Linked DNA regions of Homo sapiens: regions 1, 3, 4 and 5 are each reported to be linked to region 2. The links are microRNA targets in miRTarBase. Many come from high-throughput screens and were not tested one by one. Region 2 holds a microRNA gene; each other region holds the end of a gene's coding sequence.

Region 1 (6,245 bases), not on the chromosome of region 2:
GGCTCACCAGCAACACATAGAGAAGAAAATGCTACGGCTTGAGGGCCATGGGGACCCCCTACACCTGGAGGAGGTGAAGAGGCACAAGGTCCACATCTCAGGGACACTGTGGTGGACCTATGTCATCAGCGTGGTGTTCCGGCTGTTGTTTGAGGCCGTCTTCATGTATGTCTTTTATCTGCTCTACCCTGGCTATGCCATGGTGCGGCTGGTCAAGTGCGACGTCTACCCCTGCCCCAACACAGTGGACTGCTTCGTGTCCCGCCCCACCGAGAAAACCGTCTTCACCGTCTTCATGCTAGCTGCCTCTGGCATCTGCATCATCCTCAATGTGGCCGAGGTGGTGTACCTCATCATCCGGGCCTGTGCCCGCCGAGCCCAGCGCCGCTCCAATCCACCTTCCCGCAAGGGCTCGGGCTTCGGCCACCGCCTCTCACCTGAATACAAGCAGAATGAGATCAACAAGCTGCTGAGTGAGCAGGATGGCTCCCTGAAAGACATACTGCGCCGCAGCCCTGGCACCGGGGCTGGGCTGGCTGAAAAGAGCGACCGCTGCTCGGCCTGCTGATGCCACATACCAGGCAACCTCCCATCCCACCCCCGACCCTGCCCTGGGCGAGCCCCTCCTTCTCCCCTGCCGGTGCACAGGCCTCTGCCTGCTGGGGATTACTCGATCAAAACCTTCCTTCCCTGGCTACTTCCCTTCCTCCCGGGGCCTTCCTTTTGAGGAGCTGGAGGGGTGGGGAGCTAGAGGCCACCTATGCCAGTGCTCAAGGTTACTGGGAGTGTGGGCTGCCCTTGTTGCCTGCACCCTTCCCTCTTCCCTCTCCCTCTCTCTGGGACCACTGGGTACAAGAGATGGGATGCTCCGACAGCGTCTCCAATTATGAAACTAATCTTAACCCTGTGCTGTCAGATACCCTGTTTCTGGAGTCACATCAGTGAGGAGGGATGTGGGTAAGAGGAGCAGAGGGCAGGGGTGCTGTGGACATGTGGGTGGAGAAGGGAGGGTGGCCAGCACTAGTAAAGGAGGAATAGTGCTTGCTGGCCACAAGGAAAAGGAGGAGGTGTCTGGGGTGAGGGAGTTAGGGAGAGAGAAGCAGGCAGATAAGTTGGAGCAGGGGTTGGTCAAGGCCACCTCTGCCTCTAGTCCCCAAGGCCTCTCTCTGCCTGAAATGTTACACATTAAACAGGATTTTACAGTAAATGAAGAGGTGGCTTGTGTGTTTGTCAAGTTCTTTCTCCTGCAACCTCTGACCTCCCCCAGGATGAGCTGGCCTTGGTTTTTTACTGATTAAGAAAGGAACAGGGCAAAAGAAGTAGTTACTTGAGTAGCTGAAGCTGCAAATGAGGAAATCACTGTACTTCTGGGCCGCAGAGCCAGCCCCGGAGCCATTCCTCCCTGTTGCTTTTGTTGTTGTGGTTCTTGTCTTTTTCATTGTCTAATAACAGCTTTATTGGGATTTAGTTTACATACCTCCTTCCTCTGATTTTGAAAAGATTAAAAATGACAACTCCCTCTGAAGAGACAAGAAATGATTGGGAAATTTCTCCTGCCCCAGAGAGTGGCACAATTCCCTGGGTACCTCGGTGAGAGCCCCTCCCCCGCACATCTGGAGACCTATCTCCTTACTCCCTCCAAACTCAGCATCCCCTACAAGCTGATGTCCCACAGTCCACCTGTTGGGTTGCACGATGACCCTGACCCCTTTCAGCTGGACAGAGCCCCTAATTTCATCCTCTTTCCCAGTTTCCTTCTCTCAGGAATCAATGCTTCCCACTCCAGAGATGCCTCCACACAGGTCAAACATTTCATAGCAGCAGTTTCCTCACCAGCATCACCCTCCCCTGTCAGCTGTGGTAGGAAATGCCCCAGGCTGAGACTTGGAAAAGCTGCGCTGGAGTCCTGATGCTGTCACTTAGTAGCGGGGCATTCCCTTCCCCGAACCTCAGCTTCCTTATGAGCAAACGAGAACTGGCCCAGCACATCTCTCAGCTCCCTTCAACACTCTGTGCTTCTGGGATTCCTGAAAGATTTCCCCAAGTAACAGTGCATTATCTTCCCCCAGCCTCACAGGGGTTTCCTTAGAGTCACTGCCCCCACAAATAGCCTCTCAGAGTAAAAGTTTCCCCCATGGCAAGTTTGCCTCCTCAGCTTCCTTACCTCCGAACAGGAGAAATTATTTGCCACTCCCTCTCAGAGTATGTGGACTCCATGTAGGAAGTGCTGGATATCAGAAAGGGAGAGAAAATCAGACACAATCTCATGTGAATTGTTCTCCCTTGAGACAGTTTTTCCTCTTTGGAGAGAAAGCATGGAAGTTTTCTTTATTTGAGATTTCTCCTTTAGAAAAAAAAAAAAGGAAGACTGGATGTGGTGGCTCATGCCTGTAGTCCCAGCACTTTGGAAGGCCAAGGGGAGAGAATCACTTGAGCCCATGAGTTTGAGACCAGTCTGAGCAACATAGAGAGACCCCATCTCTACAAAAAAAATAAAATAAAACAATTAGTCAGGTGTGGTGGCATGTGCCTGTAGTCCCAAGCTATTTCGGATGCTGAGGTGGGAGGATAACTCGAGCCCAGGAGGAGGTTGAGGCTGCAGTCAGCTGTGATCACGCCACTGCACTCCAGCCCGGGCCAGAGAGTGAGACCTTGTCAAGAAAGAAACAAAGAAAGAAAAGGAAGGAAGGAAGGAAGGGAGGGAGGGAGAGAGGGAGGGAGGGAGGGAAGGAAATGAGACCTTTAGAGGCCGAAGCAAGAGGATTGCATGAGGCCAGGAGTTCAAGACTAGCCTGGACAGCATAGCAAGATCCTATCTCTATTTTTTTTTTTTTTGAGACGGAGTCTCGCTCTGTCACCCAGGCTGGAGTACAGTGGCGCGATCTCGGCTCACTGCAAGCTCCACCTCCCGGGTTCACGCTGTTCTCCTGCCTCAGCCTCCCGAGTAGCTGGGACAATAGGCGCCCGCCACCACGCCCGGCTAATTTTTTTTTGTATTTTTAGTAGAGACGGGGTTTCACTGTGTTAGCCAGGATGGTCTCAATCTCCTGACCTCGTGATCTGCCCGCCTCGGCCTCCCAAAGAGCTGGGATTACAGGTGTGAGCAACCGCGCCCGGCCTCCCATCTCTATTTTTAAAAAATTGAAAGAAAGAAAGGAGAGAGTAAGTATTCCTTTCCACCACACTTAGTAATCCCTGAGAGAGAGCTTCCTCTCCCTTAAAAGAGGAACATTCCTTTCCTACAAGAAATTTCCTTTCCCCTTAGAAACTGACATTATGTTCCATCAGAGGAGAGGTCCCCACCCCCTCACGGTGAGAGAGATTCCTTTTCTTATCGAAATCCATCCTTTTCACCCACAACAATACAACAAACACATCCCCTCTCCATACAACATGCCATCAGGAGAAAGATTTTCTTTTTAAAATTCCATCCTGGTCCTGGTCGGAAGCAGGGAACCTCATGCCCTCTCCACATTGAGAAATGCTAACCCCCACCATCACATCAGAAATGTAGTTTCTCTTCAAAGATTCTACCAATCCCCCTTGGAAAGAGGCTCCAACTCTATATCAAGGCTTTCCTCTCCAGGGGGCAGTGGTGGGACAATAAAGCTATCAGGCTGGGTGTTACAGCCCAAGTGGGGGACACAGGATTCTTGGGTCCCATGAACCAGGTAGGAACAGGCCCAAGGAACCTTGAGGGGAGCTGGTGGACACAATGTCTCAGGGAGGTAGGAGGCAGAGTTAGACTGACTCCAAGACTGACTTTTCAAATCAGGCTCTGTCACAAGAGTATAAGAGAGAGACACAGAGGCAAATGAGGCATGCTCTCTGCCACGCAGTAGAAATTCAATGTGCTGAGTGACCTGGGTTATGAAGAGGACACTGGAATTAGGAGACCTCGTTCTCCACTGATGAGCTCTGTCCCCTTGGACACGTGATATTTACCCTCTCCAGGTCTGTTTCCTCATCTCCAATAGAGAGTTAATAATAACCTCTCTACCTCTTTCACAGAACTTTTTTGAGAATCAGACAAGATGTGTTCAAAAGCTGGTTATGAACTAACGGTAAAGTAAGGTAAGATAGTATCATAAGCACTGAGACCATGGCCTTACGACATGCTAGAATTCTCAATGAGCCAGAAAGGAGTGAGGCTGGTTCAGGTAGGCTGAAGCTAGTTAAAACAATTTGGCAATAATAGTGTTGGCTCCCCCAGGGAGTGGACACCAGTCCAAACAGCAAAGTCCAAGAGAGGTTGCAAACCTGAGCATGATTCATTTAAGGGTCAATATTCAAGGGGTCTGATCAGGGGGCAGAAAAGGCATAGTAACAGGAAGCTCTTGCATGCTGTATCTCATGGAACTGGTCCTTTTAGGAATGTCTATGATCTTTTAGAGGTGTCTATGCACAGAGATGCCAGGAGCTGGGGGGCAAAGGAACAGAGGCAGATGAACTAGGAGAGTAATCAAGGCCTCCAGCCAGCTGAGTTGGGGTTTGAAAGCAAGCTGTGGTATCCATAGAGAATTGGCATGGCAACCACAAACTGGTTCAGATGTTCAATCAGATAGCCTGGGTGCACACAGTGGGGGCTAGAGGGGAATGCTTGCTCCATTTACTGATTCCAAAGTACTTAAATGCCAGACCTGGCCTATGGTGCAGAAGGGGCTACACAATCGTACCAAGCTAAGCTCCTGTTGATTCCTGGAGTAGGCCAGGGAGAATGTACAGGGTCAAATGGAAAATGGATTGGGACATTCCAGCAAGGGGCAAATAAAACAGACAAAAAATACCCTACAGATATGACAGGAATTGGCTGGGCACAGTGGCTGTTGCCTGTAATCCCAGCAATTTGGGAAGCCAAAGCAGGCAGATCACTTGAAGCCAGGAGTTCGAGACCATCCTGGCCAACATGGTGAAACACTGTCTCTACTAAAAATACAAAAATTAGCCAGGCGTGGTGGCACATGCCCATAGTCCCAGCTACTCAGGAGGCTGAGGTGGGAGAATTGCTTGAATCCGGGAGGTGGAGGTTGCAGTGAGCCGAGATCGCGCCACTGCACTCCAGCCTGAGTGACAGAGTGAGTGAGACTCCATCACAAAAAAAAAAAAAAAAAAAAAAAAAAGCCAGGCACGGTGGCTCACGCCTGTAATCCCAGCACTTTGGGAGGCCGAGGCAGGTGGATCACTTGAGGTCAGGAGTTTGAGACCAGCCTGGCCAACATGGTGAAACCCCGTCTCTACCAAAAATACAAAAATTAGCCCCGTGTGGTGGCGCACGCCTGTAATCTCAGCTACTTGGGAGGCTGAGGCATAAGAATCGCTTGAACCTGGGAGGCAGAGGTTGCAATGAGCCGAGATCATGCCACTGCACTCCAGCCTGGGTGACAGAGCGACTCTGTCTCAAAAAAAAAAAAAAGGTATGACGGGGGTGATACCTTCAAACTTGTGTGTTTGGAAGGTCAGCCAGCAGCTGCATGGAGACTGGATTGGGGATTGAAGACTGAGACAGATTGACCAGGTACTGCCAGGTGCAGTGGCACACCTGTGGTCCCACCTACTTGGGAGGCTGAGGTGGAAGGATTCCTTGAACCCAAGACTTTGAGACCAGTCTGGTCAACATAGTGAGACCCTGTCTCTAAAAAAAAAGACCAGTTATGGAGCTGTTGCAATAGCCCAAGTGGCGCCTGTAGGACTAGGACAGTGGCAGAGGAATATGAAGAGGAGACAGGTGTGAGAGACATTTTGGATGTAGAACCTACAACAGGACTTCATGTCTGAGTTGTGGGGTGTGGAAGAGCCAAAGGTAATTTGAGGTTTCCTTTCCCTCCTTTGACTGGAAAGCTCCTAATCATTCAAAACTCATCTCAAACGTCGTTTCCTCTGTGAAGCCATCAACTCTTCTTTCCCCGCTGATCAAGTCCCTTGGAGAGACTCTCCAATTCAGACCTCCACTCTGAATTCCCACAATATGACTGTGGTGTATGTGATAAGAGCGCTTATCACATTATATGGTGCCAGGTGCGGTGACTCACACTTGTAATCCTAGCTGCTCAAGAAGATGAGGTGGGAGGATTGCTTGGAGACCAGCCTGGACTACACAGTGAGACCCCATCTCTAAAAAATACCACCACCACCACCACCACCACACACACACAAAAAAGAAAAGCACACAGGCCAGGCACAGTGGCTCACGCCTGTAATCCCAGCACTTTGGGAGGCTGAAGCAGGCGGATCTGTTGAGGCCAGGA
Region 2 (5,000 bases):
CATGGCAGTTTATAAAGTATTCTCAAGTCTGTTATTTGACCTAAGATCCAACATTATAATCGTACATTTAAGAGGTTACAATGTGAGAGGTACTCATTGAGCAGAATTTTCTAATAATCTAATCACCTTGCCGATTTGCACCCAGTGTCCATTTAGAAACATGAAATTAAGCTACTGGCACTCAATTGCCACATTGCTAGCATTTAATAAGGACTCCACTAGATGGAGGAACAAGGGCTCTCAAACCAAATAACCAACGACCACAAGCATTTCCTGTCAGACAAGCCAAGGTCCTGCTGGAGCTGCCTCTGAAGGCAGCCGGCTGATGGACAGGCCTGGTCTTCCCTCTGTGTGCCCCACTGCCAGGTGGCACCTTACCCTGCGCAGGCGCTCAGCCTGCGCGGTGGTACAGATGCTTCACTCACACTTGCCGGGGGCTAAAATCACAGCCTATGACCAACCTGGCCTGGGGTGTTCTGAGGTAGTTCCTGAACTCGGGATGCCTGTTACCTACTCTCTTTCAGAAGTCAGGACATGTAGGAAGTATTAAAATATCCATGCATCGCTTTCATCAATAATCACTGTAATTGAGTGCAAAATAAAGGAAACTTGAGTTGCTTTATTTAGCTTCCAATTTCTGGGAGGCTCAAGAATTATAAGTATTCTGGACAACAAAAGAAAATAAGACTGTGCTTACAGATCTTGTTCTGCCATATTCTTGCTTTAGGATTGCTATTTTATTGTTGCCCTTTCTGTTACATGGGATGTACACATCAGGTGTTAAAAGGTACAATACATTCTACAACTGAGCACCACTTTCTGTAACTGAACAGGCAAAGAAATTACACTGAACATCAGCATCTGGCAGTATTTTTTTGGAAAAAAAAAGTGACTAAAATGGGTTTAAATTGATTAACACTATTAAATCACATCTAATATTTGATACTACATGATTCAATACAGCTATACGATACAATTATACAAAATGTGTTAACATCAAAGAATACAACCAAAATTAAGATAGCAAACAAAACCTATATAACTTTTTTTTTTTTACAGGAAAATACTTTTGAAGTATGCATGTAACTGCCCATTCTTTTAAAGAAAATCTACTGCAAGCAAAGTTATCAACCTCCAGAAAAATCACACGTAGCATTACTAAGCATATCCCCAAAAAAGTGTACAATATGCACACTTGGAAAATACAAAATTAAAAAAATTGTAAGCAACAGGTGAGCTTCATATTTATAAGAATGTGAAAAGAAGTCCCATTTTTAGCACTGTTGTATAAAGAATTGTCTTTTGATGCGAAGTTCATGAATTGTCCTCCTGTTGGGACCACACTTTACAAAAACACTGTGTTTTTGAAACGAGATTACAGAGCAAGATAGAGCATCTTAGCAATGTCATCTTAGTAAAGTTTTTTTTTTTTAATTTTTACTACTTTATCAAAACATGTCCCTTAGGTGTGTAGGATTCATTTTTAAAATTCTTCCTAGAAATAATATACAAAGGAGAGGCATATTTATTCCCAATCACACTTCTGGAAGATGCTTCCCGTGGTCGAGAAGGGTCTTCTCTCTTCTTTTCACTGGTTGTTTTTGGCCTTAGCATGTGTTAAGATGTGAGATTTCAGGTTAGTTGACTGAGCAAACTTCTTATTACAACCATCGAAGGGGCACACATAGGGCCTGTCTCCGGTATGGATTCGCACATGTGTGCGCAAATTGAAGTCCAGTGAAAAGCGTTTCCCACAGCCTTCGAACGTGCACTGTCAAGGAAAGACCAGAGATCAACCCACTCAGCAACTCTGACCAGACCCTGGGAGTCAGGAGCTCACTGCTTTGCTAGAGAACAGCCTATTTATTTTACCAAACACTTTTCATTCCTGCCCTGGGTGAACTTTGTGGATATAGTCTAGAATCAGCAGGCAGGTTGGACAACCCCGAAAACCCAAGGAGAGCCCTCACGAACTGTTTAAAACACTTGGCAAAATGGCAAGTCTTCCTAAATGCAGGCTAGAGTCCTAGTGCTGCTGTAAACATTTCCAACAGTAAAATACAAATGATTAAGGGTTCTGGTGTCAGTTGTCAAAAAAGAACCACGTTAGATTTACTAGCTGCACTGCTAGTTCTTTCACTTATTTATGGGCTAAAGTATTACCTATACTTACACTCTAGAAACTTTATCAGTTAGTAATTATACTATTAACTACCAAAAATAAATTACTTCAATCCTGTAATGAATGAAGTAGAAATTGAGTTTTAGGTATGCTCTTCAATCCTGTTCTCCTCCTGCCATAAAGTGTACTCCATCAACACCAATACATTGCGTACCCAGTACCACAGAGTATAGACAAGGATGTCCAGAGCCCCGGCAACCCTTCTAAGCGACTCCCCAGGAGAAGTTTTGTTTCTCACCAAGGAGTAATAAGACCCTGAGTCTCTGGGCTGGCGCCTCCTGCCTCATCACCACACCACCTACACTTGCAGTGTTCAGACAGGCAAGGCAGTGTGGGGAAGAGAGGGAACTGGCTCTACCTGAAAGGGCTTCTCTCCAGTATGAACCAGTTGGTGTCGTTTTAGTTTTGAACTCTCAACAAAAGCTTTGCCACATTCTGCACAGACGTGGACTCTGGGACCGTGGGTGTGCAGATGTTTTCTCATGGCCGAGTTATCCCTGAACATCTTTGTGCAGCCCTTAAAACAGAGAAAGCAGCTTAGAAGTTCACATTGCAAACTGTTAGAAAGGATTCAACCATTTAACAGCCTTTACTGACATATTAAAACAAAACCACCTCCCCAACCCCCCATTTTAATTTTACTTAGTATTACGGTAGAACATTAATATCATTTAAGACAAAAAGCAGACAGCTGAAAAAGTCATCATTCAATGCAAACCCTAGTTTTACAGATGAGGAAACTGAGGCTTAGAGATGTCTTTAAGTAGACTTGCCCAAGGTCACACTACTAGTAGTAGCCAAACTGGGAATAGAACCCAACACCCTGGCTTCCAGCTCTACCACAGCCACCTCACCCGACTATGTCCCCCAAAATGAAGTAACAGAAGCACTGCTAAGCAAATGGAGTTAAAATGACGGTAGTCCACCACTACCTTTGGTGGCCCCATATTCTGTGCTGCAACAATGGACTGTCATTCTCCATCGCCTACTGTTCCCTCTTCTCTCTTTGCCTCTTTCCCCTTCTTGACAGAGAAAGAAGCAAGAGGGTCTCCAAGGAATGGCAACTACAGAAGAAATTTATTTTGTGAGACACTAGGAAAAGGAAGAAGCAGGCAAATTGATACCAGTGCAGGGCGGGAAAGGCAGATGGATGTGTGGCGCTCGAGAAGCATGTCCTCAACAATTTCTTCTGCAGTTGTTGCCCAGTAATGGAGTGAATGGGGAAATGATAAGACAGCATGACAGAAGGACAGCACAAGTCACTAGACAGCTCACAGGCAGAAGGGAGAGGGAAGCCCCAGTTTTTCCGCCTTTACCCCTAGGTTGAATTTCCATTTAGAAAATGGAAATTTAAAAAATTTAACTGGTACACAATGTATACATGCATTGAAACATCACACGGTACCCCATAAATATGTACAAGTATTATGTGTCCATTATAAAGAAAACTTCAGAGAAGCTAAAGGGATGGCATAGGCACTTCCAGCCTAACTGTTTTCAAATGCTTGTTATTTCGGCCCTAATGGAGATACGTTTACATTTCAAATCGCCACATCAAGAACGCTGACAAAGAACAGGAAGGACTTGCTAGTGCACAGTCATTACAGGGAAGAGACCGTGAAACTAAATGTAGCCTGCTCCGATTGTTCATTTTTAACATTCTTTATTCCACTCAATCTCTCCTACTTTGTTCTCTGTACCTATGTGATACTTGATTTTTCTGTTAGTCTCATATCCAATTAAGTTTGAAAATAGCCCCCAACAAATATCTCAAAAGTACTTTTCAGGTTATCCTTTTATTTTAAAGACTAACTACATTTGAAAACAATTAAGTGCCTCTCTAATCACACACAATTATTAAGTCTTTATTTGGCTTATTTTAGCAACATCCAAAATAATTTTCAAATTTCAGTTACAAGCCTACATTCCCATAAAGGTCAATAGGTGAGACACAACCCAGGATCTTAAGACGGACTTGTTAATATAATCCAAAAAGAAATGAAACGCTAACAGTAGAGTCAACACACAGTAATCAAGCAACGGCTCCCTGCAGTCATCCCATTTAACAGTATTTAAAAAGTTGCCTTTACTAAATAACAAAACTTCATCTCTTGGATTTAGAAACCGAAGATTCTAATTCCTTGCTTCATTTAAATTATCACAAGCAGAAACAAAAGTGCAAATTTCTTATAACTCTCTAAAACTTCATCAACAGTTTAATGAACACTCTCCCTCTAGCATTACTTACTTTATGAGGGCAAGCTATTGTTCTTGGAGCATCATCTTCTTTAATTTTTCTTGGCTTCATTCTTATCAAAAGAAAAAGAGAGACAGACAGATTTGTAGGAGTGGGTAGACTCAACTGGCATAAATCATATAGTCCCTAAAATGCTTTCCTTATAGGTACCCAAACTAAAATTATGATACATTTCCATGAAGCAGAAAGGATGAGACAACTTGCATTCACTAAGTACCAATGACTGTGAAGCACTCTTCCCATCTTACAGATAAGGATGCTCAGGCTAGAAACATCGAGTTGCCGCCTACAGTCTCATAGCTAATAAGCTGGTGCAGCTTAGAATGGCACTATGATCTGTGTGATTCACATACCTGTTCTTAACTCCAAACCCTTTAAAAAAACACAAAAAATCAACTCAGACAATCAGATGAATCTCCTTGTGAGAGGCAAGGGAAGATTTCCAAAGGCAGCTGCTGCGATGATGAAGGTGCCTTATGAAAAAGAAGCGGTGAACACAGGAGTGTCCTAAAATATCCATCTCTATACACGAAATGGGTCCAATTAGTACTGACACGAATG
Region 3 (6,308 bases), not on the chromosome of region 2:
TACTCAGGGTAAGCTTTACATTAAACTTAATTTCCTCTCCTTTTCAGATTGTTAAAGGAAATGGGCTGGCAGGAAGACAGTGAAAATGATGAAACATGTGCTCCCTTAACTGAGGATGAAATGAGAGAATTCCAAGTTATTAGTGAACAGGTAAGAAAACCTGAATCATACAACTTCACTTTTAAACTGCCCTTATTTAGAACAATATAATTATATGTAAGCATGGAGTGGGGGAGATTTAGGAATTTATCACGATAGGTCAGAATTGCTTTTAAAAAAAAAAAGAGGGAGGACAGGCTTTTGCTATGGTGTCCAGCTGGCCTCTAGAACTCCTGGGTGCCAGGTGATCCTCCAACCTTAGCCTCTGGAGTAACTGGGACTACAGGCAGGAACCACTGCACCTGGTTGAATTGACTTTATAGAAGTCTGCAATAGTGACTTATTTAAACTATTGGGTGTGCAATAGTTAGGAATTAGTGTAAGTGATGTCTATGGATTAGTCATTTTCCAGACCTTTTTTGTTTTGTTTTTTGTTTTTGTTTTTGGCTTTTCTGGGGGAGGAGCAAGAGTGATAAGAAGTAGAGAGTGTTAGTAGCTTCCTAAGTAACTTCATCTTTTATCCTTTTCTTGCACAAGAGTATTTCATATTCTAAAACATCTTGCTTAATGTCTCCCTAGTTACCTTTCTGAAAGAGTATTAGGGAATTTTTGTTAGAGCATCAGGAAGTTGAGATGCTTTTTTTCAAATCGATTATTTGTTTATTTAAAGAGTTGGGGTCTCACTCTGTCATCTAGGCTGGAGTGCAGTGGCTGGTCATAGCTCACTGCATCCCCAAATTTCTGGGCTCAAGCAATACTCTTGCCTCAGCTTCCTGAGCAGCTGGGGCTACTGGCTTGTGCCACTACACTGGGCTTATTTTCTGTCTTTAAATTGTTTCTAATTTGGGCCAACTATCTTTTTTCTTCTTTGATGATGTTTTGACTCAATTCTTATTTATTACCAACCTTTTAGTTATGATTTCTCATTTTCAGAAATAGAGAACTGTATTTTTTCTAGTATCTTCATCTCCGGTTAAACGAGACAATTTTGTAACTTTATATACCTCATTCTACTTTACAAACTATGAACAAAGCAGATTGGGGGGTGTATTAATTTAGGTCAGAATAATAAAAATAACAGATACAGCTTAATGGTTTCTGATTATATTCTGGTAAGTCCCTGAAGGTATTTATTACAGTTGTCACTTGAGGCAATAAAAATGTGGGAAAGTTTAGTACCTTAATCAGTGTGACAATTATTACTCACATCTACTTTGTCTGGATCCAGAATTTTTTCAGAAATATCATTACTTGTGTAGTTTTTGGGTTAGGATACAATTTTATTATATTCATGCTTATATTATTACAGTAGGTTTGTAACTCTTGAGGGATAATTTATTTATTTTGCTGTTAACATTTTAGTTACAGAAGAATGGTCTGAGAAAAAATGGTATTTTGAAAAATGGCTTGATCTGTGACTTCAAGTTTGGACCGTGGAAGAACAGCACTTTCAAACCCACAACTGAGAATGATGACACAGAGACAAGTAGCAGTGATACATCAGATGACGACGATGTGTGAAGGATTTCCTAACAGCTTTAGAAATCTTAGTGTGATACATCTCTCATACAGTTTGGGGTGAATTGTAAAAATGAAGAACTATAATTTATGTAGTGAAATACCCCATTAGAAGAGGATTTTTTGGGGGACTTCAATATGAAGAAAACCAAGAATGTTTTGTTGGGCTGTGTTGAACATTATTTCTTTGTAAATGAATGTTGTAGGAATGAGGACTTGGGTTGGTCCAACATTGACTTTCTTCATCACTGCAACATTTCTCTGACTAGCAATGTGACGATGTAACAAATGAGATTTTCTCATTTAATAATAAAAAATTGTGTAATGTTTTGCAAAGCTTCTGTCTTAAAATGTCCAGGTCTTAAGAAAAAAGGCAGCTTACACTGTTTTGCTTGCAGAGTCATATCTTTTTCGTACAATGGAAATCCTCAAGTCCACTTTGTGCGGTCTCCCTCTCCTTCCCCCAAAAAACAACAACAACAAAACAAAAACCAAAAAGGAAAATGTAGCATGTTGGCTAAAACTGGAGCAAAGTGCACTAAAACAATTTCCTGAACTCACCTGTTGTACTATTCACCTTTTAAACCATAAATTGCTCTTTAGCCATTTGTAGTGCAGTAAATGTTACAGGAAAAGACTTGGCACATTTTCTTCCAAATTTTAAGAGGTGATTTTCAAAAGCTTTATTGGGGTATGTTGTCAGACCAGGGTTTTCAGAGTTGATGGAAAAGAGTCTTGTGAGAAAACTTATTTTGATAAATTATTACACACGCAGAAAAACTGATCACACTGACTGGATCTGTCCACGACATGGAAAATAAACTGGATTTTCAGAATATTGTTGTTTTCTGTAGTGTTCAAGGTATTGTTTCTAAACATAAACATACTCTAAACATGCTTTATTCACTTGTTAAAGTCATACTTTTAAAAGTAATACCTTACTAAAGATGGTGATTACTTTTCCGAGGTCAGAAAAGGAAAGCTAAGCGTTTTCATTATCAAATACACAAGCTTATTAAATGAATGACTGTTAACTACTTTATTTTCATTTGCACATTAATTTTGGAATTGTTTCTGTTTTGCTGCTGACGGAAATACTATTTTGGCTCTGTGTATATTTGTATTTTGATTTTTCTGGTTTGTTTACCCCCATTTGCTTTTAGCTCCCCCTTATGTTTAAATATATTCTAACTTATGTAAAGAGCATAATCTTAGAGCAAAAATACTTGAGGTTTTATGTCAGATCTAATCTTAAGTGTTTGTTGTTTTTTAAAAAGTGTTTTCTCAGATGGCTGCAGTGTTTTTGCTATTTCTGCATAAATACCCTACCTGGACTCCCCAGTTTTCACCAGAAACTGTTATTTTTTTTTGTTGTTGTTCCCACTGAGACTGATGGTGATGGGGAAATTAAAAACAACACACTAGCACACTCCCACAAAACTTGAGGAAGAGTTAGAATGGTAATAAAATATTAAATAGACCTTATACTTAAAATAAGGTTTCACTATATAATTTGTCACAATTCAATCTAATCAGCTAAAGTTAAATGTAGTTAGAATTAGCCACAGGAGAATGTAAAGCATGCTTTGACGAAGCTATCGGTAACACATATTGAATGTCTTTGAGACTCTTAGATTGTACTATTTGCTTAATAGATTAATGAAATTTATCAGATACAACCTGTATTTCCAAAAACAAGCTAGAAGGAACCTGAGGAATGTGGTTTACATTTGAGATCCACCTTACTGTGTTTTCTACTTTCAGAAAAGATTCTGTAGTTTTGGTTTTTGGCATCTTTCTTATACTCAGTTTTTTCTGCCTTAATTCCCATTTACCAGCAGTTAACTCATGTTTATTGTGCTTTCATGCATTGTGATATGGAATGTGTTTAGTAATTTACTCCTTATAAATATGGTAAAGTACAGTGGTATGGTTATTCTATGCATTAAGTTAATGACATTAATAAGCTTGGTTATGAGGGGTTGGAGCCATACATGTAATTTAAGAGAACAGTTAAAAGTGTAACATAGTTTTAGCTTGGTGTCTAAATAATGGGCAGCTGATAAAACAGCTTGGACCATATTGTTTTAAAGAGAGCCTACAAGCACAGAAACTAGTTATAGATCTAATGTGGAATTGCTGAACTCAGAACTAGGCCATGGAAGTCTGAAAAGCAAATATGGCTGTTTCAAACTCATTTTTTTGGCAGCTTTTTTATTTTTAACACTTTATTGAGGTATAAATTGACTTGAACACACAGGTAAAACATACAGTTTACAGTGTTTTGACCTACAACTAAGTGAACATAATCTATTATTCCCCCGAATTTCTTGGTTCCTTTTAAGTCCCTGTCACTAATTCTCCACCCCCCTCTCATTTTATTTTGGTATAAAATGTAATTAATGAGCAAAATTCTTAAGGTAATGACTTAAAATAGCATTTCAAAAACTATTTGCTTGATTTTAGTATAAGGATTAGAATATTTCTGCAGATAATTTCTATTGAAATTGTTAATCTAAAATCAGCTTGACTTAATCAGATTTATATTAACAGAATTCAGTATGTTAAAGGATCTGGTTCCCCCAAAATACTTTGTCCTTTTTTGCTAGTGTTTATGTATACTGTTAGAATGTGGTTATATAAACCTTTTAAATTTAGGAATCTGTTAAATAACTTGTTTTAACACCCCATCCGTCATCATCCCTAATCTGATACTGGAGTCTAAATACATGCTCCATAATCATGCAAACTAAGTTGAATCTAGATGATGAGGGTAGACTGGGTGCGGTAGCTCATACCTGTAATCCCAGGACTTTGGGAGGCCAAGGTCAGCAGATCACCTGAGGTCAGGAGTTAGAGACCAGCCTGGGCCAACGTGGTGAAACCCTGTCTCTACTTAAAAAAAAAAAAATACAAAAATTAGCCGGGCGTGGGGGCATACACCTGTAATTCCAGCTACTCATAGGATATTGAGGCAGGAGAATCGCTTGAACCCAGGAGTCGGAGGTTGCAGTGAGTTGAGATCGTGCCATTGTGCTCCAGCCTGGGCAACAGAGTGAGACTACGTCTCAAAATAAAAAAAAAATGATAACTAGGGTAGAAAGGATACACACTTGTGAAATATTTCTATAAAGTGAGATTTTTATTTTGGCTTACACAATAAGGGATGTGTTACTAGGGCTTTTAAATGATTATCACTAAGAGTTGGATATTTTAACTTTTAGATAGTTAAGTTTCCTGAGGTTATAAAAGTTATTTGGCTGTTAGGGGAACGACAGGACATATCAAGCAATAGAAAAATCCGTGAAAGCCTCCAGATGCCGCAGAGATGCTTCAGATTCTGGTTTTTGTTTTGCTACTTAATATTTCCTTTCTTTAGGCAGGGCTGAATGCTTGCACTTAAAACGATGGGACTCAGAGGACAGCTGTGATTGTTTTAATATTTAACTATGGGGCTGGGCATGGTGGCTCACGCCTGTAATCCCAGCACTTTGGGAGGCTGAGGCGGGAGGATCACCTGAGGTCAGGAGTTCAAGACCACCCTGGCCAACATGGTGAAACCCCATCTGACCCAGTCTGTACTAAAAATACAAAAATTAGCTGGGTGTGGTGGTGCATGCCTCTGATCCCAGCTACTTGGGAGGCTGAGACAGGAGAATTGCTTGAACCTGGGAGGCGGAGGCCATAAGCCATGATTGTACCACTGCACTCCAGCCTGGGTGACAGCGAGACTCTTGATATATATAACTGTATAACTATATATATATAACTATATAACTACATATATAACTATATAAAAACTATAAAACTATGTAAAACTATATATAAGACTATATATATATAAAACTATATATATATAGTTATGGGACACGTGGACCTGAAACATTCGTAGTTTAGGACTTGAGAATGTGTTGTAATTAAGAGGTTTTGTAATTGTGAATTTTTGTTCAGTTGTACAGTTAACTTTAAGTTCATTCTGCCTACCCATATGGATTCGTTTTGTAGAACTACTCTGGCATAGTGATTGAAGGTACAATGTATTATATCATTAGGTCTGGTTGAAGGACACTGCTGAAGCATGTTCCATGCAGCAGTGTCCTAACTTGCAATATGTAAGAGCATGTGTAGTGGTGGGGCCCAAACTTATCTACACCATTGGTATCATTGGGGAGCTTCCCCAATGTGTCCACCATCCCCCACCAACACCCCAGATTGTGGTTTAATTAGACTGGGGCGTGGCCTGGGCTTTAGAATATTTAAAAATCCTGCCCCCAAAACCCATTCTTTTTTTTTATTTTTTGAGACAGAGCCTTACTCTGTCACCCAGGTTGGAGTGTAAGTGGCGTGATCTTGGCTCAGTGCAACCTCTGTCTCCTGGGTTTGAGTGATTCTCATGTCTCAGCCTCCCAAGTAGCTGGGGTTACAGGTGCGCACCACCATGCCCGGCTAAATTTCATATTTTTAGAGATGGAATTTCGCCACGTTGGACAGGTTGGTCTCGAACTCCTGACCTCAAGTGATCCTCCTGCCTATGCCTCCCATAGTGCTGGGATTTACAGGCATGAGACACCGCGTCCAGCAACCAGTTATAATGTATTAACATACAGTATGGTGGAAGTAGTCACACCTGGGTTTGAAACTACATTTTTTTTCCCCCTTTTTATTTGTGCCTTTTTTTATTTTTTATTTTT
Region 4 (6,212 bases), not on the chromosome of region 2:
ACTCAGGCAGGTCTATGAAGAACTCAGTGTTGTCCATAAAGGAAGGACAGAAGTGTATAATGACAAGCGAGGCCCAGTGTCTCACAGCTATAATCCCAGCACTGTGGGAGGCTAAGGCAGGAGGATCGCTTGAGCCCAGGAGATCAAGGCAGCAGTCAGCGATGATCACACCACTGAACTCTAGCCTGTGTGACAGAGCAAGATCCTGTCTCTCTAAAAAGGAAAGCACGGGGGTGGGAGGGGAAAATAGAAATGTGTAACGGATTTAATGGTTGGGAAACCATTAGTAACTGATAGAAACAATGCTTATGGGCTGAGAGTAGTGGCTCTTGCCTGTAATGTAGCACTTTAGGAGGCTGAGGCGGGCAGTTCACCTAAGGTCAGGAGTTAGAGACCAGTCAGGCCAACGTGGTGAAACCCCGCTTTACTAAAAGTACAAAAATTAGCTGGGCATGGTGGCACAGGCCTGTAATCCCAGCTACTTGGGAGGCTGAGTCAGGGGAATTGCTTGAATCTAGGAGGCAGAAGTTGCAGTGAGCCGACATCATGCTGCTGCACTCCAGCCTGGACAACAGAGCAAGAGTCTATCTCAAAAAAAAAAGAAAGAAAGAAAGAAAGAAAAAAACAAACAATGTTTATGGTGTGGTACAGCAGTGGCCATCATGATGGCAGACAGTCCCTGATGGCCATGTATGTGTTCTCTTTCTGAGACTTTGCTTGTATGAAAGTAGAGACCTAGAGAGAGGTTAGCATGTTTGTATTGCCCAGGGAAAGAGGAAGCAGGGCAGTTACAATGGGAGAACATTGAGCTTCTTATATGATGTAGCCGATAGAGTCTGGAGTGGACCCCTTATGATTACTCCTCTTGCAGTTTGCAGCCTGTACTTTCCCTGAGTGTGAGCTGAACCTGTGGCTTGCTGCTAACCAATAAAATATGGTAAAACTGATGGGATGTCCCTTCCATGACTACACTATGTAGTGTAAGACTCTCTCTTGCTAGCTGACCCACTCTAGAGGCTCTGTCTTCCTAGTTGGCTATGAAGAGGAAAGTAGTCATCATGGGGATCCACACAGCAGGGAGCTGAGGAGGCCTGTAGGAGCTGAGAGCAACCTCCAGCTTCAGCCTGCAAGGAGTTGGGGCCCTCAGTCCTACAACTGTAAAGAAATGAACTCTGTTAACAACCTGAGTGATCTGAAAAGAGGACTCTCCCACAGTCGAGACTCTAGATGAGGCTACAGCCTGGCCAACACCTTGACTTTTGCTCTGTGAAGTTCTGAGCAGAGGAGCTCACTAAGTTCTGCCTGGACTTCTGACCCACAGAAACTGAAATGATAAATGTGTGCTGTTTTAAACCACTAAGTTTGTGGTAATTTGTTATGCAGCAATAGATCACTAATGCATTAAAGTGAAACAGGCATGACAACAAACATGCAGATAAAGAAGATAAAGAGAAAAACTTGTGTTTCCAGCCCTGACCCGTTGCCTGGACTACACATTTATTACTGACCTGCCTACTCTGCATCTCCACGGGGATCTCTAGTAAGCTCCTCAACCTGAACGTATCCAAAACTGACCTTGGATTCTATGCTGGCTCCTCCCCTGGCCTCCAAAACCTGCTTCTCCCTCAGTTTCCTCATCTCAGTAAGTGGCAACTCCATTTGTACCATTTCTTAGGACCAAAACCTTGTGGTCACCCTTGATGCCCTCCTTTTTCATACCCCACCTGTAAGTTTATCAGCAAAGCCTTTTTACTCTGTCTTGAAAATAAATCCAGCATCATAACATTTTCATGGCTCCTCCCTGGTACAAGTCATCTGCATCTTTCCCCTGGATCACTGCAGTAGCTCCCAGCTGGGTCTTCAGGCCTCCATCCACCACCCCTACCCACAGCCCATCTCAGTCTAGCATGTGAAGTAACTTCTTAAAATGTAAGTAAGTCCAGTCCTTTTTCTGCTTTAACCTTCCTGTGGCTCCCCTCTGAGAGGTAAAGCCCAGGTCAGCATGATGACTTTCAAGGCCATATATGATCTGGCCCTCAACCCCCTCTGGCCTTGTCACCTCCTAATCTCCTGATCACCCTGTGTGCTCTGCCCACCCCAGCCTCATTGCTGTTCTTCACACAAACCACAGTGCTTCTGCCTCTGTGCTCTGGCACTGCTGTTCTCTCAACTTAGAATGCTTTTCTCCCAGGTATTCTGTGCCTCACTCCCATTGCTCATTACCACTCTTTTAGAAATTGTGATTTCCTATATTCCTTCCCCTGATTTATTTATCTCCTGAGCAGTTATCATCATCCAACACACCATATCTGTTACTACTTATTTTGTTTTCTGTCTTCTACAATGATAAGGAATGGGACTTTACACTTTGTGCACTTCTCTGCCCCCAGTACCAAGAACACTGATTGGCATGTAGTTAGTACTCATTGATTTTTGTTGAATGAATGAATGAACTGAACACAGAAGTCCTAAGGGAAACTGGAGAGTGAGAGTCCAGGGTGTGGATGGAGAATTAGCCTGACACAGGGGAAAGGATACCTGCTTCTTAAATCAGAGAAAATAGATGAGGAGGGGCAGGAGCAGGTCAGGGCAGCAGCAGGAAGTTTGGAATCTCCTCCTTCTATTTTCTCTCTGAGGTTGAGGGAGCCCTAATGAATGTCATTAGTGTCCTTCCAAAAGAGACCCTACAGATCTATCTTTATCCTTTGGCATGTGAACAAGTCTATGGGCCCTCACCACACACCATTATGCTGGGGTGTTGATCTTAGATTTCCCAGCCTGCAGAATTGCAAGAAATAAATTTCTGTTGTTTACAAACCATTCAGTCTTGGTGATATTTTTGTTATAGCTGCCCACATAGACTAAGACATACACATTAACACAAACAACCTTGCTTTCCATCTTTACAAATCAGGTATTGAAAAAATCACTCCTGATTCTTTCAATATTGTGTCTATTTGTAACTGCAGTAATAAAATTTTTGATTACTTAAATTTTTTCAGTCCAACTGGATTACTGAATTGTCTAAAACCTAAAATACTACCATTCAAGCTAGAATTTTAGATGCCTCATTTTATTAGTCAGGGTTCTCCAGAGAGACAAAATCAATATGATATAGATATAGATATAGGCATAGATATAGATGCACATACAGATATAGATGTAGATACAGATCTATGAGCAGGCATTTATTAAGGAGATTGGCTCATGTGATTATGGAGGCTAAGAAATCGCACAACAGCTCATCTGTAGGCTGGAGACCCTGGGATGCTGGTAGCATGGCTCAGTTTAAGTCTGAAAGCCTCAGAACCAGGGAAGCTGATTGTGTAACTCTCAGTCCAAAGCCAAAGGCCTGAGAACCCAGGGCCTCCTGGTACAAGTCCTGAAGTTCAAAGGCCGGAGAGCCAGGAGTTCTGATGTCCAAGGGCAGAAGAAGAAGAGTGTCTCAGCTCCAGAGGAGAGAAGAATTTGCCTTTCCTCTGCCTTTTTGTTGTATTGGGCACCCAGCCAACAGAAGGAGAGAATTTCCCACTGACTCACTTGCCAATCTCTTCTGGAAACACACTCACAGACACACCCAGAAATAATGTTGTACCAGCTGTCTAGGTATTCCTTAATCCAGTCAGGTTGACATCTAAAATTAACCAGCACATGGATTAACTTCCAGGATCCACTATTCTAGTTTCAAAATGTGGTTTTGGGATTCCTAGAGAGAACTCTGATGTACTCTTAAGGAGTCCCCAGTGTTAATAATATTTTCACAATAATAATAATGAAACATTAATCGTTTTTCATCTCATTCTCTCAGTAGTGTGCAGTAAAGTTTTTTTGAGCTAACATGACCTATGATATACCAATAGGTTTAATACAAAGGCAGATATGATAATACAAATATCTCTTATTAAGCCAGACATGAGATCTGGAAAAAGTTAACCAGTGTCACACTTTTTGTTTTTTTATTTGGACACAATAGATTGCTTTTTCACAAAACATCCTATCTACATTAACCTATAACTGATTTATTAATGCTATTTTAACATAAATTAAAAGATAACATTTTAAATTTTTGTTTCAATGTCAAATGTCATAAATATTAACCCAAATAAACAAAAGCTCTTTAAAGTCCTCAATAACTTCTAAGTGTCTAAAAACATAATTAGATCAGGAAGTTTGAAGCCACTGGTGTCCCCATTGAACCTGAATGCTGACGTAGACCTGGTCCAGTACTGCCCTGCTCGACCAGGACCTCAAACCTCAACCACACTCAGGGACTAAGTACTGACCCCTTGTTTATTGCAGGGACATCTGAGCCAAACCACATCCACATGAGTCCATGTTCTTCATTCATCTTCATCCCAGGTCCAGGCCTGTGGGTGTGTGCTGTGGAAATCCTGGGGTTGGGTGGAAATGAGCCATCATCTCCCAGGACCCTTTAGCTCTTATGGTGGGACTTAGCCATCCTTACAACCTTGGTCCCTCCCAGCTCTCTGGTTCCACTTCCTCTATCTCTGATCTGCATATCTGGTTCCCTCTCCCTTCTGGTGGTCCTGTGGATTCCTCTCTCCTCTCTCATCCTGGTGAACCCTGTTGGCCTCATTCCAAGTCCACAGCATCTGGTGCCAACTGGCATATTGGGCTTAATGTGGTTATCCTGATTTTAAACAGTAGGTTCGCTGCCCAACAGCTTCTCTCACTTTCTTTTTGACTGGGAGCTATGAAACAACTAGTTCCCTATGCCTGGATCCCATCCCATAATTACAAGCAAAGGAACTACTAAAGCCACAGACTAGTGAGGAGGAGAAAACTGGGGCAGAGGGCTGGAGTGGGTGTGAAAAAGGCAGCTGGAAGATGTTCTCTTACGTGACCAGAGGGGAGGAGGGCGTGTCTTTCATTAGGGGGGTTGTGCGGTGGCTGCTGAGATGGCCAGGGCTTATCTGCATGGCTGTGAGTCCAAGGAATTGATTCTATAGGCTCTGGTGGGTCCCCACTCTGTGAAGTTTCAGGCCCTCTTCAGGCACCATGACCCCACTGGCTCCTGTGAGTGCAGGGCAGATGAAGATGGGGCTGTCATCAGACCCTAACCTGAAGAAGGGCCTCACAGGCACAGTAAAGGCTGAACGGGGACATGTGTAGATGTGCGATCTGTCCCTCATGTTGTAGAAGGAGACATCTCCAGCTTCATAGTCCAGGAAGACGCCCACCCGGCAAAGGGACTCCTTCAAAGGGAGAATCCTCTCAGGGGAGGACAGGGCCCGGTATTGGTTTCCAAACATCTCCAGGGTCCAGAAGCCATTCTGAGGAATCAGCAGGACCTCCCCTTTCCTCTCAACACTGTGTCTGCAGACCCCCACAGTCCACACCATCACGTTTTCCACCTCCACCTCCCAGTAATGTTTCCCTGAGGCGAAGCTCTCCCATCCCAGGACACAAGGCTGACTGTCGAATCTCTCTGGGTTGTCAGGCACTCTCTGCCTGTAGGGGCCCCGCCTCACACTTCTCCGGTCCTCTGACAGGAAGAGCTCGGGATGAGCGGTGTCTGGATCCAGGACCACATCAGCTGCAGAGGAAGTCTCAGGTTTATGCCTGGGGTCTCAGGAACCCTGGGGATTGTGTGGTTCCTGGTCCCCAGAGAAGTCTCAGAAAGCTGAAGGGGGTTCCCCATGTAGTGGCCGTTTCCATGAAGGTCCCCTGATCCCAGGCAGCTCATACCCTGAGAATTACGGAAGCTGCACTTCTATCTCTCCAGAGACAGAAGCAGTGCCCCCAGGTTGAGAAGAATTGTGGCTCTATGAAATCCAGAGAGTTTAGGAAATGAGCCAAAATTAATGGTTCCCAGTTTTTCTCAGCATTCTAAGATCTGATCCCTTTTCTATTCAAGATATATGATCTCTGGGACTTTCTTTAGTTAGAAACTTTCCAACTTGGCTTAAACCATCACAGAAGCTTTATCTCCTATTGTTCCCCCACATACCTCTCAATGGATCAATTAAGTGAGTCTATCATTACACACTGTCCTAGGTGGTGAAGGACCTCTTCGTTGGTCCTATAGGTTGTTTTAATAGGTGACAACTGATTTAAGTGGCTGACAAGGGCACACTTCAAAGGATAAAGAAGGAGAATAAATGTGTGCAAAAGAAAACCTGGTGCCTGAGGGATGTGTGGGCAAAGTTAGGGAAGAAATACTTCAATCCAGTTTTGCTTTAACAATATGA
Region 5 (6,195 bases), not on the chromosome of region 2:
AAATACAATTTCATTTCTATTATGAAGATATTAACAAATTTAGAATATGATTTGCTTTTATTGTCACAAATAAAAAACCAAACATAAAATATAGTTTATGCTTGCAATTAAAAGAACATACTGGGCCAGGCGCCACGGCTCACGCCTGTAATCCCAGCACTTTGGGAGGCCGAGTCAGGCAGATCACCTGAGGTCAAGAGTTCGAGACCCGCCTGGCCAACATGGCGAAACTCCCATCTCTATTAAAAATACAAAACTTAGCTGGGCGTGATGGCAGGCGCCTGTAATCCCAGCTACTTGGGAGACTGAGGCAGGAGAATCGATTGAACCTGGGAGGCGGAGGTTGGAGTGAGCTGAGATTGCGCCACTGTACTCCAGCCTGGGTGACAGAGTGAGACTCCATCTCAAAAAAAAAAAAAAAAAGAAAAGAAAAGAAAAAAAGAACATACTGCTCAAAAGAGTAAGATTCAAGGTATTTCTAATGCTAAAGATACTTACAATATCAAGGTCAAAGACTTAGTAGAGAATGAATTCGTCTGAACCCAGAACCACAAACATGACCTTCTCAAGCAACAGCACTTCTTTTATGAGTTAGTGCTATTTTTGGATGAACATATTTTGTATAGCATCTATTAGTTTACAAAGTGCTACATCTCTTATAGTAGGCCCTTCTTATCCATGGGGAATATGTTCCAAGACCCCCAGTGGATGGCTGAAATCTTGGATACTACTGAACCCTATACTTTGTTATTTCCTAAAAAACACATATCTATGATAAAGTTTTAATTTATAAATTAGGCACATAAAGAGATTAACAACAATAAATAATAGAACAATTTTATAACAATATACTGTAATAAAAGTTATGTGAATGTGGTCTCTCTCAAAATATCTTATACTGTACCTTGGAAAGCAAGACTGTGGATAAGGAGGGACTTCTGTATACCATTTTGTTTGATATTCAACAAAACAGTGGAGGCAAGCCAAGCAGGTGATATTATCAAAATTTTACAGCTGCAACTCAGACAAATCCAGACTTTGGAAGGATCAGCATAAAGGATCCTTCTACCACAAGAACAAAATACTGCAAAATGAAAAAGGGAAGACAGACCGAATGATCAGAAGTATTCCTCAGAACTGATAATGTTAAATCATGTTAAGTAGTTTCCTAGTTATCAGCATAGTGAAGTAGGGAGGTGGGTAAGAAGTAGGGAAGTTGGCCAGGCGCAGTGGCTCATGCCTGTAATCTCAGCACTTTGGGAGGCCAAGGCTGGCAGATCACCTGAGGTCAGGAGTTCGAGAGCAGCCTGACCAACATGGAGAAACCCTGTCTCTACTAAAAATACAAAATCAGCCGGGCGTGGTGGCACATGCCTGTAATCCCAGCTACTCGGGAGGCTGAGGCAGGAGAATGGCGTGAACCTGGGAGGCGGAGCTTACAGTGAGCCAAGATCGCGCCACTGCACTCTAGTCTCCAAAAAAAAAAAAAACTGAAGTAGGGAAGTTAGGCCTTCTGAATTGATATCCCATCACTGTATGACAGTGTTAGCCAGCTTTGCTGTAAATATCGTACCATGCCTATCCAAGAAATGAGGGAAAGGGCAGGAGAGAAGGGGTAAGTCAGGTTCCAAAAGGTACAGTTAGCGGAAACTGTAGGGGGGGGAGTCCCTGTGGTCCCCAATAGAAGAGATGAGAAGGAACTAAATGAAAATGCAGAGATTCTGAAGATGTAACTGACCACTTTAATTTCCCCCAACTGAAAGATTTTGAAAATCAATGGTAAAACAGGACTTAGTAACAAGAGAATTTGCTGTACAGTAACTTGGCTAGAATACAGTATTGTGTATCTTAAAGAGTAAGAAACTTGGGGGAAGGATGAGGTGACTAAGAGCCTTGAAAATTGCAGGCAATTTGTCTTTACTACAGGCTTATTAATAAGCCAGGTCATTTTGAAAGTTGTACTTAGAGCTTTATTTCCAAAACAGACAATTGTAAATTCTTATTTTTCCTTCAGTTTCTTCAGATGATTCTGAATCACACATGAGTGAAGAAAAAAAGGAAGAAGATTTACTAAATAATTTTATGCAATCAATGTCAATTGAAGAACAGGGAGAACATCTGATGTTAACTTGACAGTCTTGTCTCGTGTATTGAATTCGTGCCAAAGGTGAGGGTAAGGGGTTGTGAGTTGTGTCCTGTATGTTTAGGATGGTATTGTTATTTATTAAATCATTAAGTAATTTTGGTTTGTTCAGAAACTTAAAACAATGTAATTGGTCTGATGTAGTTCCATGTACCAATGATAGTTATGTAAGAAAATTTACATGTAACATATACTTGTACTTCTAGCTAGATACAATTAAAACTTTTCTTGCATTCAATATTGAATTACTTTTCTTTAAATCTGACAAATGCATCGTATTTCTTCTTTCTGTGTTCATAGTAAGTCCTAAAACAGCAATATTAGAATATCCTACAAGGGCCAGGCGCAGTGGCTCATGCCTGTAATCCCAGCACTTTGGGAGGCCGAGGCGGGTGGATCATGAGGTCACGAGTTCGAGACCAGCCTGACCAACATGGTGAAACCCCCGTCTCTACTGAAAATACAAAAATTAGCTGGGCATGTTGGTGTGTGCCTATAGTCCCAGCTACTTGGGAGATTGAGGCAGGAGAATTAGAATTGCTTGAACCTGGGAGGCGGAGGTTGCAGTGAACCGAGATCACACCACTGCACTCCAGCCTGGCAACAGAGCGAGACTCCGTCTCAAAAAAAAAAGAATATCCTACAAGTATTTTTTTGATTGGGCTAAGGGAAGCTTGGAAATATCCAGATACAGAATAGCATTTGACAGAGATGATGCTCTGACTTGCAAAGTAGGTGATCAATAAATATTTGCTATTTGAATACAACTTTAAAATGTAAATACACATTTTCCCTATCTTATGAAATTACCACATAAATAACTTGGGACTCTCGGACTAGATTAGGTTGGGAGTAGTTACACTAACAAGAGGATTCTTTACGTTATATATTACTCTAGTATGCTTCCTTGCTAAATTTGTTTTTTTTTTGTTTTGTTTTGTTTTTTTTTGAGACGGAGTTATGCTCTTGTTGACCAGGCTGGAGTGCAATGGTGTGATCTCGGCTCACTGCAACCTCCAACTCCAGGATTCAAGTGATTCTACTGCCTCAGCCTCCCGAGTAGCTGGGAATACAGGCATGTAGCACCATGCTGGCTAATTTTGTATTTTTAGTACAGACAGGGTTTCACCATGTTGGCCAGGCTGGTCTTGAACTCCTGACCTCAGGTGATCCACCTGCCTCAGCCTCCCAAAGTGTTGGGATTAGGGTGTGAGCCACTGTGCCCGGCCCCTAAACTTGTATTTTTAAAACTTTTATTAAACCTTGAAAAATGGAAATAGCAACAGTTTGAAGAATCACTGTTAATGTCGGCATGGTATATTATTTAGCAAATAAAATCTGAGTCCAACATTATGACACAATGTAAGAGAAGAGCTCTGAAAGGTCATCTCGTCCACTTTAATATTTATATCCGTAGTTTCACTTGGTTCCTCATTTTTATGTTTTTTTTTAAATTAAATACAGGTTATCAAAGTATAAATGAAAGGTAATTGTTTATTACTGGAGAAGAGAAAAATGTATACAAGAAAGTCTAGATTCTTTCTCCACATGCACTACTTTTGGAATAAAGTTCCAAATATCAACTTTGAAGATACTTACAAGGATAAATTTTTCTTAACAAGTGACCAATTACTGTGTTGTGGACATTTTTTCATAGAATCCATATACTGTAAACTAAATATATTCTTATAGTTTACAGGAAGCTTGGAGCAATTATGTATTAACAGAGAAGATGGTATTATATTTTACTGCAAAATATTATAAAAGTGATACAATTTTGTGGCTCTTAAATGTTTAATTACTTGATTTCAACAGGACAATGAAAAAAAACCAAAAATCATCAAGACAGGCCTGGCTTTAAGGTTTTTTGTATTCGATTCGTTCTACTTTCACATCATCTCCAATTAGCTGATACACATAGGTGACCACTGTAGAAGCCTGGATATCCATCAACACAAATGATGGAATAATGTTTCTAGAAGAAAAAATAAATAATGTCAGTGTTTTGTAGCACAAAGCAGCAGCACTATAAATTTCAATTTAAGATGACTATTTGGATTCAGAGAAATCTGTTACATATCACATGAACAGTTACCAAAAGATTGCCAAAATGGCTAGATTTATTTAAATGGTCACATGTGGCTGGGCACAGTGGCTTACGCCTGTAATCCCAGCACTTTGGGAGGCTGAGGTGGGTGGATCACCTGAGGTCAGGAGTTCAATACCAGCCTGGCTAACATGGTGAAACCCCATCTCTACTAAAAATACAAGAATTAGCCAGGCGTGGTGGCGGGTACCTATAATCCCGGCTACTTGGGAGACTGAGGCACAAGAATCACTTGAACCCGGGAGACAGAGGTTGCAGTGAGCCAAGATTGCAACACTACACTCCAGCCTAGGTGACAGAGCAAGACTCTGTCTCAAAAAAAAAAAAAGTCACATTTATTTTTATTTTATTTATTTATTTATTTATTTATTTATTTATTTATTTATTTATTGAGTCTCCTTCTGTCACCCTGGCTGGAGTACAGAGCCTCAAACGTGGCTCACTGCAGTCTCAACCTCCTAGGCTCAAGTGATCATCCCACCTCAGCCTCCTGTGTAGCTGGGATCACAGGCATGCACCACCACACCCAGCTAATTTTTAAAATTTTTTTGTAGAGACAGGGTCTCACCATATTGTCTAGGCTGGTCTCAAACTCCTGGGCTCAAGCAACCTGCCCTGGTCTCCCGAAGTGCTGGTATTACAGGCATGAGCCACTGTGCCCAGCCACATTTCTTTTACGAAATGTCACACATGCAATTATTTTACTAAAGCCCCCAAATTCCCAAATTCTATACTACTCACGTTTCCAAGGCATTATATGCCCCAGTGGCAGAACCTGGATTAATGTAGAATTTATTTTCATGCTCAAATGCTTCAAATTTGTGTGTGTGTCCCGAGATAAGAATGTCCACATCAAATTGCCTCTGCAACAGGGCTAAGCTGGCCATATCTCCCCATGGAATAACTTGATGTCCATGGATCAGACCAATTTTGAACTGTCCAACAGTCACAACTTTCTGTTCTGGATAATTCAGATTCTAACATAAGAAAAAGACGTAAGAAAATATGTATTTTAGAGATACTGATGTTTAAAAAAATCAGTTTCCTTAAATATTCAATCTCCTATGGATGTTTTGATGTAGTACCCCACAACACACACATTTATACATTTTTTTTTTTTTTTGAGACAGAGTGTTGCTATGTTGCCCAGGCTGGAGTGCAGTGGTACCATCTTGGCTCACTGTAACCTCCGCCTGCCAGGTTCAAGCAATTCTCCTGTCTCAGCCTCCCAAGTAGCTGGGATTACAGGCACCCGCCACCACGCCCGCCTAATTTTTTTGTATTTTTAGTAGAGACGGAGTCTCACCATGTTGGCCAGGCTGGTTTCAAACTCCTAACCTCAAATGATCCACCTGCCTTGGCCTCCCAAAGCGCTAGGATTACAGGCCTGAGCCACTGTGCCCACCCCACATTTATAAATATTTTATTTCTTCTTGGTCTCCAAGGCTGCATCTATATTTTAAAACATAACTTACTCAATATAAACTGGAATTTATCATGCAACCCCTTTATTGTGTTTATTCCTATAGAATATGGGTTCTTTTGCGCATGCTGTAAATAATTATTCCCCCCAAACTTGTGATTTTCCTTTACCTAAGGCATGTAAGTTAGGGTGTGTTCAAATTATAGCTTAATGTAGCCTTAATACTTTTATAGATAGCTTAAAATAATGAGAGCTAACACTTACATAGTACTTAGTATGAGCCAGGCACTACTGTAGGGGTTTTACAAATATCAACTTAATTAATACAAACAATCCTAGAAGGTTCTATTATGATCCCCACTTTATGGATGATGAAACAGGCAAAGAGGTTGTTTGTCCTTTCATCTCCCCGTCTTTCACCTCCATGCCACCTTTAAATTTATCCAAACTCTTTTTAAAATACAATAAAAAGACAGTATGCCCCTTCAGTTTGGTTTAAGGAACCCCATTAAATAACACAAA

The links. The annotated mature microRNA hsa-miR-6764-5p reads UCCCAGGGUCUGGUCAGAGUUG and lies in region 2 at 1,806-1,827, opposite strand. An mRNA with a match to its seed (bases 2 to 7 or 8) in the 3' UTR can be bound and repressed. Matches are read on the target gene's strand: a 7mer-m8 pairs with bases 2 to 8, a 7mer-A1 pairs with bases 2 to 7 and ends in A, and an 8mer does both.
Region 1: the mRNA of GJB1 is a reported target of hsa-miR-6764-5p. Seed matches in the 3' UTR shown: 7mer-m8 at 610-616.
Region 3: the mRNA of GPBP1 is a reported target of hsa-miR-6764-5p. The part of its 3' UTR that is shown has no 7-base or 8-base seed match.
Region 4: miRTarBase lists BTN2A2 as a target of hsa-miR-6764-5p. Seed matches in the 3' UTR shown: 7mer-A1 at 4,421-4,427, 7mer-A1 at 4,354-4,360 and 7mer-m8 at 3,360-3,366.
Region 5: the mRNA of FAM216A is a reported target of hsa-miR-6764-5p. The part of its 3' UTR that is shown has no 7-base or 8-base seed match.

Annotation. Positions count from the first base shown.
Region 1 is chrX:71,223,992-71,230,236 of GRCh38, forward strand. GJB1 (gap junction protein beta 1) reads left to right here. Exons shown (of 2, transcript NM_000166.6): 2 at 1-1,525. The coding sequence ends at 568. Among named protein-coding and RNA genes, the nearest start is that of GJB1, 3.9 kb to the left of the region's middle.
Region 2 is chr14:100,274,189-100,279,188 of GRCh38, reverse strand. MIR6764 (microRNA 6764) reads right to left here and starts at 1,832; the gene lies at 1,772-1,832. YY1 (YY1 transcription factor) reads right to left here. Exons shown (of 5, transcript NM_003403.5): 3 at 4,431-4,491; 4 at 2,541-2,699; 5 at 1-1,771. The coding sequence ends at 1,589. It also overlaps a transcript of SLC25A29 not described here. RefSeq lists an enhancer at 1-856.
Region 3 is chr5:57,261,133-57,267,440 of GRCh38, forward strand. It overlaps GPBP1 (GC-rich promoter binding protein 1), which reads left to right. Exons shown (of 12, transcript NM_022913.4): 11 at 48-150; 12 at 1,462-3,541. The coding sequence ends at 1,620. Among named protein-coding and RNA genes, the nearest start is that of GPBP1, 90 kb to the left of the region's middle.
Region 4 is chr6:26,391,720-26,397,931 of GRCh38, reverse strand. BTN2A2 (butyrophilin subfamily 2 member A2) reads right to left here. Exons shown (of 8, transcript NM_006995.5): 8 at 3,058-5,557. The coding sequence ends at 4,965. Among named protein-coding and RNA genes, the nearest start is that of BTN3A1, 7.4 kb to the left of the region's middle.
Region 5 is chr12:110,488,005-110,494,199 of GRCh38, forward strand. It overlaps FAM216A (family with sequence similarity 216 member A), which reads left to right. Exons shown (of 7, transcript NM_013300.3): 7 at 2,015-2,381. The coding sequence ends at 2,133. It overlaps VPS29 (VPS29 retromer complex component), which reads right to left. Exons shown (of 4, transcript NM_016226.5): 3 at 4,992-5,227; 4 at 3,079-4,118. The coding sequence ends at 4,001. LOC124903016 (a long non-coding RNA gene) reads right to left here and starts at 1,289. Exons shown (of 3, transcript XR_007063459.1): 1 at 905-1,289.